Homo sapiens: one gene and its partner. The protein of the gene in region 2 purifies or fractionates together with the protein of the main gene of each other region. This does not show direct contact. Each region holds a gene or a part of one and is shown on either strand. Other genes may lie near its edges.

Region 1 (4,380 bases), on a different chromosome or scaffold from region 2:
CTGTGGTTTATTTTTTAGAGCAGTTTTAGGTTGGTAGAAAGTATAGAGGTTCCCACCTACTTCCTCCCCTTCTCTCTCCTCAGTTTTCTTGATGAGTAACATCTTGCATTAGTGTGGCACAATTGTTACAATTTATGAACCAATACTGATACATTATTATTAACTGAAGTCCATAGTTTACTTGAGGGTTCACTCTGTGTTATCCAGTCCTACAGATGGTAACAAATGCACAATAGGTATCCACCATTACAGTATTATACAGAAGAGTTTCAAGGCCTTAAAAATGCTGTCTGGGCCTGCAGGGTGGCTCATGCCTATAATCCCAGCACTTTGGGAGGCCAAAGTGGGAGGATCACTTGAGTCCAGAAGTTCAAGATCAGCCTGGGCAACATAGAGAAACCCCGCCTATACAAAAAAGAAAAAAAATGTTTTAATTAGCCACCTGCAGTCCTGGTGCACCTGGGTGGCACAGACCTGTAGTCCCAGCTACTTAGGAGGCTGAGGTGGGAGGATGGCTTGAGCCCAGGAGGCTGAGGTTGCAGTAAGATGTAATTGTGCCACTGAACTCCAGCCCGGGTGACAGAGCCAGACCCTGTCTCAAACAAACAAACAAAAAAAAGCTTTCTGAGCCTCAGTTTTAACACCTGTAAGATGAGTGTGAAACTCCATCTGAAGCCCCCCAGTCTCCTCCTATAGGTTTTTGATTTAGGCCTCCCAACAAATCAAGTATGACTGAAATCCACTAAATGTCTCGAACTATGGTCTGATATCCATCAGAATCACTAGGCTTGGGTCAGGGCGAGAGGTCCTCATTCAAATGCACATTCTAAGGTCTCAACTGCAGACCTGCTGAGTCACAAGCCCTGGGGTGGGGCCCAGGAATCTGCATTTTAACAAGTCCCCTGGTGCACAAGGAAATTTGAGACCCACTGTGCCCGACAGCTTGTGCACATGGAAATTTGTTCTGCCAAAGTTTCTCAGATAAAAACAGAGAGGTTCTAGCCACTGTCAGGTCAAAGCTCTGGAGAGCTGTGCCATCTCCCAAAGGGAGCAGAACGGTTTGCCATCAAGCCAGGCAAGAGCCCATTTCTGCCTGTGCAGCTCGCAGTCTCCGAGCCTGCTGTTGTTTCATATCTTGATTGCTTATCACTCACCCAAAATAACCTGAATGCAATCGCACCAGCTGCAGCTCTCTCTGCAACTCCCTTAATTTAGCAGCCAAACACATTGGGTTCCTTCACAGAGCACAAGGCCTCAGCACGGGGCCCAGGAAGGGGCCCCTCCCTCCCAGCTGTCTGTAGTGAGTTGAATCATTTCCCCCTGGAATTCATGTCCACCTGGAACCTGAGAATGTGACTTTATTTGGAACTAGAGTATTTGCAGGTTTAATTAATAAGGATCAAGATAAGATCACACAGGATTAGGGTGGGCCCTAAATCCAATGACTGTTGTTAAAAGAGGAGAGAACAGAAGAGACAGAGACTGGAGTGATGCAGCAATAAGCTGGGGAATGCCACGGACTGCCCACTGCCGCCACAAGCTAAAAAGAGCCAAGGAAGGATTCTTCCCCAGAGCCTTCAAAGGGACCACAGCCCTGCCAACACCTCCATCCCAGATTTCCAGCCTCCAGAACTGTAAGGGAATCAAGTTCTGCTGTTTCAATCCACCAGGTTTGTGGTAATTCGTTAGAGCATCCCTAGGAAACCAACACAGCATCACTGCCATAGGCCCCCGGCCTGGCTCAGCGCCCACTCAGCCCCACTCTGGCGGGAAGGAAAGGGCCCCACCTGCAGGCGATTCTCCAGATGGGCAGTTTAACGTGGCCTGTTAGGATCAGAGCTAGTTTCTCCCAACCGACATCTTTGAATTCTGCATCTACTAGGCCCATTTCCCACATAAGGAGAAGGACCCTTCTGTCCTCTGCTTGAAAGGCTGTATTCCAAGAAGGGCTGAGTTTGGTAGTGACAAATACTGGTCCTTGGGCAGTGTCTGGCCGGCGGTGCCATGCAAGATGAGTCCCTACAGCTTCATGCCACTCCGGCGCCGTGAGTCCTTCCGGGCAATGGGGCTGAAGTTCACAATCTCCTTGTAGATGTGCTCTGAGAAAGGCAGCATGGTTTAAGGTGCGTAAAGAGGTGCTGTGGCGAGAAAGTCCACCCCCCTTCAGAGACAGCATGGAGAGCGAAGTCAGCTCAAGGAGAAAGAAGCACCCAGGAGACAATGCCCACCAAGAAGGAGGTGGCAGGTAGGGCTGGCAGAGGCCAGGCACAAAGATGGAGGAAGCAAGGAAGAGAGGCTGCAGGCGGAGGCGAGGAAGCCCGAGGCCCCAGCTCTTACGCTTCCATTCATCCACTGTGAGTTTCTCGTGTTCTAAGGAATCATCAAACGGCTGCTGGGCCTCCGTCTCTTCCTCAGGGTCCCGGAAGGGTTCAAAGAAGGGATGGGTGAGGGCCTGCGCGGCCGTCAGGCGCTTGTCCACGTCTAGCTCCAGCATCTTCTCCAGCAGGTCCGCAGCTGCAGGGGCAGAGCCAAGAGCCTCACACCAGGGGCTGGGAGAGCCCGCCCTCTGGGATACGCTGAGAGGCCCCTGGGGAGCGGGCTCTGAGACTCACCCTGGGGGCTGGCCCGTGGGAACAGCTGAGTGAAATCCTTCCTGGGGGTCTGTGGCAGGGACTGGATGTAGGATTTGGCCTGGAAGACAGAAAAGCATCAAACCCCTTAGGGCTCTGGCCTCAGCGTGTAGAGCAGGGATTTCAGAAAAGCCTCAGAGCAGGGCTGAAAGTTCAGGTCAGGGTCCACGGTGAGATTAAGACAAGAGTGCCTGCCAGGGTAGGAGGATGCTGTGGGAAGGTGCTGGTGAGCCTTCTTCCACAAAGGCCTGCAGCCCACTGGGCCCACGTCAGGCAAGCACACAGCCCAGGCCAGCCTAGGTCCCATTTACCACCCACCGCTTTGTCGTTCAGCTTCTGCACAAACTCCGTGCCAGGCACCCCGGTCACTTTCAGGATCTGGGTCAGCTGGTCCAGGTCTTGGTGGCAGGTTAAGGCTTAGCCTTGCTCTCCTGGTGGGTCTGAGACTGCCCTTCCTGCGACCCCACCATCACTTCACCCGGGCACCATGGCAACTGATCATCCAGGCTCCAGCCCTGCCTAACCACCTCCTGCTCTCAGGAGGAGGCTTATTCTTCAGGGCTCAGGGCTCTGGAGAGCTTTCCAACGTGCCAGGCTGAGGGGGGTCCCTACCCAACAAATGGATGTGGACTTCTCAGCCTTCATCCCAGTGACTCTTTTCTGTTTCCTCGTCTTCTCACCAAAGGCCTGCCCTGCACACACAGGTACTCAGTTAATGTGTGCCGTGCCAAAATGTATTTTCCACGTAGTGGTAGAATTTTTCATCATTTTGCTTATCTACATTTTTTTTTTTTTTTTTTTTTTGAGACAGGGTCTCACTCTGTCACTCAGGCTGGAGTGCAGTGGCACAGTCTTGGCTCACTGCAACCTCCACCTCCTGGGTTCAAGCGATTTTCCTGCCTCAGCCTCCCGAGTAGCTGGGATTACAGGCGTGAACCACACCCGGCTAATTTTTGTATTTTTTGGTAGAGATGGGGTTTGACCACGTTGGCCAGGCTGGTCTCGAACTCCTAATCTCAGGTGATCCGCCTGCCATGGCCTCCCAAAGTGCTGGGATTATAGGTGTGAGCCACCATGCCCACCCAACATTTTGTTTTTTTTTTTTTTTTTTTTGAGTTAGGGTCTCCCTCTGTCACCCAGGCTGGAGTACAGTGGCACAATCATAGCTCACTGCAGCCTCAACCTCCCAGGCTCAACCCTCCCACCTCAGCCTCTCAAGTAGCTGGGATTTTTCTTTTTCTTTTTTTTGAGACAGAGTCTTGCTCTGTCACCCAGGCTGGAGTGCAGTGGCGCGATCTCAGCTCACTGCAAGCTCCACCTCCTGGGTTCACGCCATTCTCCTGCCTCAGCCTCCTGAGTAGCTGGGACTACAGGCGCCTGCCACCACGCCTGGCTAATTTTTTGTATTTTTAGTAGATACGGGGTTTCCCCTTGTTAGCCAGGATGGTCTCGATCTCCTGACCTCATGATCTGCCCGCCTCAGCCTCCCAGAGTGCTGGGATTACAGACATGAGCCACTGCGCCAGGCCCATGTCTGGCTAATTTAAAAAACTTTTTTAGAGATGGGGTCTCCCTATGTTGCCACATCTGGTCTCAAACTCCTGGGCTCAAAGGATCCTTCCACCTCAGCCTCCCAAAGTGCTGGGATTACAGGCATGAACCACTGCGTCCAGCCTTATCTGCATTTACAAATTATTCTACAGGGAGTATGTATCACTCTCACATTAAGAAAAAAAAGACAGTTATTTAA
Region 2 (5,262 bases):
CATTGGAGACCTGATTTTAGTCTCTATTAGAGTCAGCACTCCAAAGAGTAGAGTATCAGTTCATTTTATTCATTTGTTTGTAGTTGACTTGAAGCACAACATGTAATTTTAACATTAACTACCATTAAATTGTTTTCTTTTGTAGCTAGCAATTCGAAGAGCTACTCTGAAAAGATCATTTACTCCTGTATTTTTGGGAAGCGCCTTGAAGAACAAAGGAGTTCAGCCTCTTTTAGATGCTGTTTTAGAATACCTCCCAAATCCATCTGAAGTCCAGAACTATGCTATTCTCAATAAAGAGGAGTAAGTCTTGAAAATTGAATCTTAGTTTATGCAGAAATACTTTCGTATTTATGCACTGTGAAGGAATTTAAGGATAGTTCTTTTAATTATGTCTGTGATTTTTTTTCATAATTTACAATCATGGTTTTTATTTGGGTAACAATTTTGACGTATAGAAAAATATTTATTATACTAGTTCCTATATCATATTCTGTTTTGAGTTGGAAGTATGATTTGTTTTACTCTCTCTCAAGGTTTACATCATTAGAAAATTTTCTCATTTGGGACTAGCTGTTTTCAGACATACTGTTAAAAAAAAAAAAGTTTTAAGAAACAAACTTCTGCCAGGCGCAGTGGCTCACGCTTGTAATTCCAGCACTTTGGGAGGCCAAGGCGGGCGGATCACCTGAGGTTGGGAGTTTGAGACCAGCCTGACCAACATGGAGAAACCCCGTCTCTACTAAAAATACGGAAATTAGCCGGGTGTGGTGGTGTGCACCTATAATCCCAGCTACCCAGGAGGCTGAGGCAGGAGAATCACTGGAACCTGGCGGGGCAGAGGCTGCAGTGAGCTGAGATTGCACCACTGCACTCCAGCCTGCCTGGGTGACAGAATAAGATTCCAAAAAAAAAAGAAACAAACTGCAAAAGAAACTCATTGGTTATGTTTTCTTTTCTTTCCCTATGAGACCATTTCTGTGTTTTTTAGTGTACTTTTGTCCTATCACTATGTAGTAACTAAGCTAAGCTCTAAAGACCTTTTTTTTTTTTTTTTTTTTTTTTGTTGAGACAAAGTCTTGCTCGGTTTCTAGGCTGGAGTGCAGTGGTGCAGTAATAGCTCACCACAGCCTCGAACTCCTGAGCTCAAGTGATCCTCTCACTTCTGTTTCCCAAAGTGTGGGCATTATAGGCATGAGCCACTATGCCCAGCTGAGAACTTATTTCTATTGATCTCTTTCAGTGAAATTTTACTTATGTGTGACAGCAGTAATATCCCACACACGTGCTTTTTCTCAGATAATACTTCCTGATGAAATAAATTGATATAAAAGAAATATCATATATTACATCTCATAGATTTATATTTCTTTTATTTTAAGTGACTCAAAAGAGAAAACCAAAATCCTAATGAACTCCAGTAGAGACAATTCCCACCCATTTGTAGGCCTGGCTTTTAAACTGGAGGTAAGTTGCTTTCTAATGTATTTAACTGCTATCTGTAGAATGTTTTTACTTCTAGGCTTTATTCCTATTACAGAATGACTCTGACTTTTATGAAAGATTTGGAAAATAGGAAAGTAGAAAGAGCAGGTAGAGAATTTCCAAAGCTCTGACATGATAGTTCTTTTGTTATTAGGTGCATTTCTTTCTAGTCTCTTCTCTTTGCCTGAAGAGTGTAAATTTTTACCTAAATCATACTACCTGTATAGTTTTGTCCTGCTCTTTTTATTTAATGTCACAGTAGATAATGGTCCATGTTTCTATAAATAGTTTAAGCATTTTAAATAGTAGCATAACAGTGCATCAAGTAGATACACCAAAATTTGCTTAAAATTTCCTAATTGTTAGATGTTTATATTGTTTCCAGGTTTCTACTGTTATAAATAACATTGGGTCCATTTCTAGAAATATGTCCTAAGGAACTAATGAAGGGTAGCGAATTAATGTTAGCTTCAGCTCACCTTATAAAACCAAAATCTCGCAAACAATTGAAAATGCCCAGCCAGTCGCAGTGGTTCACACCTGTAATCCCAGCACTTTGGGAGGCTGAGGCGGGCAGATCAGAAGGTCAGGAGTGGGAGGCCAAGGCGGGCGGATCACAAGGTCAGGAGTTCGAGACCAGCCTAGCCAACATGGTGAAACCCTGTCTATACTAAAAGTACAAAAATTAGCTGAGTATGGTGGCGGACACCTGTAATCCCAGCTACTCAGGACGCTGAGGCAGGAGAATTGCTTGAACCTGGGAGGTGGAGGTTGCAGTGAGCCGAGATCGCACCACTGCACTCCAGCCTGGGCGACAGAGCAAGACTTCATCTCGGAAAAAAAAAAAAAGAAAATGCCCAGTAATTACAATTTGATAAATAAACTGAGGTACATTCTTATAGTACAACATTATTCAGACTTTAAAAATTATGTTGAAATGCCTATTTTTGACATGAAAAGATGTTTATGATTTAAAAAGAAACAAACTTACTTATTTTAGAATATTTTAAAGAAAAGTTATGAAGATAGTCCAGAGAATTCCTGTATATCCTGCACCCAGTTTCCTCTATTGTTAATACACACTGTCACAACTAATGGGCCAATACTGATATATTATTATTAACTAAAATCCTTACTTCATTTGAATTTCTTTAGTTTTTGTCTAGGTCCTTTTTCCGTCTCACTAGACAGAAGGACCACAGAAGGCCCATCCAGAGGACCACGTTATATTTGATTGTCATGTCTCCTTATGATCTCCTAGGCTGTAATAGTTTCTTAGACTTTCCTTGTTTCTCACGAGATTGATATTTTTGAGAAGTATTGGTCAGCTCTTTTGTAGAGTGTCCCTCAATTTGGGTTTATTATTTGATGCTTTTCACATGATTAGATTGGAGTCATGTGTTTTTAGGAGGACTGCCATCGAGGTGAAGTGTTATTCTTGTCACATCATATCCAAGGTACAGACTTGCAGCATGATTTATCATTGTTTTTGTTTTTTTTTGTTTTTATTTTTATTTTTTTGAGATGAGATTTCGCTCTTGTTGCCCAGGCTGGAGTGCAATGGCACAATCTCGGCTCGCTGCAGCCTCCACCTCCCAGGTTCAAGCGAGTCTCCTGCCTCAGCCTCCCAAGTAGCTGGGATTACAGGCATGCGCCACCACGCCCAGCTAATTTTGTATTTTTAGTAGAGACATAGTTTCTCCCTGTTGGTCAGGCCGGTCTCGAACTCCTGACCTCAGGTGATCCGAGTGTCTTGGCCTCCCAAAGTGCTGGGATTACAGGCATGAGCCACCGCACCCGGCTGATTTATCATTGTTAATGCTAACCTCAATCACCACACCTGGCTGAGATAGTGTTTGACAGGTTTCTCTGCTGTAAAGTTACTGTACTCTTTTTATTCCCCTTTTCATAGTGTACTTTTTAGAAGGAAGTCACTTGGCTCAGCCAACACTTGAGGGGGGAATTATGTTCCACCCCCTTGAAGGGGGCACTATCTACATAAGTTATTTGGAATTCTTCTGAAAGGGAGATTTGTCTTTCTTCCCTGCTTATTTATCTATTTGGACAATCACTTATTTAATATCAGCGTGGACTCACGTATATGTATTTTGAACTTTGAGTTATAACTATGACTTTGAGTATGTCATTTGTTGTTCAGATTGGCTGGGTTTGGCGATTGGGAACTCTCAGTTGGCTCCTGTGTTCCTTTAACATCTTCCAATGTTTTGCCTTTTTGAATACTTCCTTACTTGCTGGCACTACAAGACGCCTCAGGCTTATCTTGTATATTCCATGCCCTAACCCTAGAATCAGCCGTTCTCCAAGGAGCACTGGTTCCTTTTTAAGTAAAATGGTATTAGAAACCAAGATTTGGGGACTGGATGGGCTTTTTGTTGAAATGCTGTTGCTTCTGTACATAATATTTTAAGTGGGGAAAAATGGTAGATAAGTTGGAAGTGTTAAGAGTGGTTATTTCTGGGATGGGATTATATTTTGGGGGCTTTTTCTTACTTTAAAAATATTTTACAGTATATTTATTACCTCCAAAATGAGGGGAAAATTTTTTTAATTAAAAAGTGGAAATAACATTACAGTAAAAGTATTTACACATAAAGCTTTTAAAAATACATATATAAGAATATTTTCTTAGGATTCCCAGAATAGTGATTATTGAGTTAAAGGCATAGAATGTTTTCATAGTTAATGGTTTATATTGCCAGATTGCGTTCATACTCTCCAAATTAATGTATTGGATTATTTCAATGAATATCATCATTGAGTATTGTTTAAAAATCATTACTGATTTAACAAATGAAGAATTCTATTGTAATCTTTTATCTTGATGAAATAAATTTTGATTTTTAAAAGCAATCAGTGCTTTAAAGTTTGTATAGTCGAATATGTCAGTCTTTCTGTTTAGTCATTCATTAATTTTTAACCTTAGCAACCTTTTATTTGTATATATTTTGTTAATATTTACTTTCGTTCCTTCTACTTCTTTATGTTTTTTTTCTTTCCCCATCATTAATTCAACTGGAATTTGTTTTAGTGGGTAGGATCTAAATGTATCTCCTCTGCCTCCAAATAGAGTATCAGTTGTCCAGTTAGTACTTTATGCACAATCCTTTCTTCCTTTTCCATTGATTTGTCATGTTTCTTTATCATCTATTGACAAATATATTTTATACTTTAGATTTTTATACTGTACTCTGTGGGGTGTTTAGTCTAATTTGTGCTGGTTCTGAATTTTCTGAGTTTCAAGCATTTTAATATGTTTTTATATCTGTCAGGGTTAGTTTTATCTTATTACCATAGTTTTTGAAAAATTTCTGTTTTTACCTATTTATTCCTCTGAATGAATTTTAAAATCACTAATCATGTTTAAAATTTCCTGTTGGGATTTCGATTGCTATTTTGTTAAGCCTATAATTAACATGGTAAGAACTGGGAACTGTTAAATATATGTTAATTGGTCACTGCTAGTATATTCAATCACTTCACAGAACTCTTTTTTTTTTTTTTTTTTTTTTTGAGACAGAGTCTCACCTATTCTGTTGCCCAGGTTGGAGTGCAGTGGTGCGATCTCGGCTCACTGCAACCTCCGCCTCCTGGGTTTAAGCAATTTTCCTGCCTCAGCTTCCCGAGTAGCTGGGATTATAGGTGTGCCACCACGTCTGGCTGATTTTTGTATTTTTAGTAGAGGTGGGGTTTTGCCATGTTGGCCAGGCTGGTCTTGAACTCCTGACCTCAGGTGATCCGCTCGCCTCTGCCTCCCAG

What was found. Proteins that work in one complex are often made in the same cells at the same time.
Region 1: the proteins of GFM1 (region 2) and MAPK13 purify together in Homo sapiens (co-immunoprecipitation; one large-scale study listed by IntAct). This does not show direct contact.

The regions. Positions count from the first base shown.
Region 1 is NC_000006.12:36,137,013-36,141,392, reverse strand, and holds part of MAPK13 (mitogen-activated protein kinase 13), read right to left. Parts: intron 3,029-4,380; coding exon 2,949-3,028; intron 2,692-2,948; coding exon 2,613-2,691; intron 2,515-2,612; coding exon 2,338-2,514; intron 2,100-2,337; coding exon 2,020-2,099; 3' UTR 1-2,019. UniProt on the Homo sapiens protein: Serine/threonine kinase which acts as an essential component of the MAP kinase signal transduction pathway.
Region 2 is NC_000003.12:158,653,165-158,658,426, forward strand, and holds part of GFM1 (elongation factor G, mitochondrial), read left to right. Parts: intron 1-145; coding exon 146-303; intron 304-1,382; coding exon 1,383-1,467; intron 1,468-5,262. UniProt on the Homo sapiens protein: Mitochondrial GTPase that catalyzes the GTP-dependent ribosomal translocation step during translation elongation.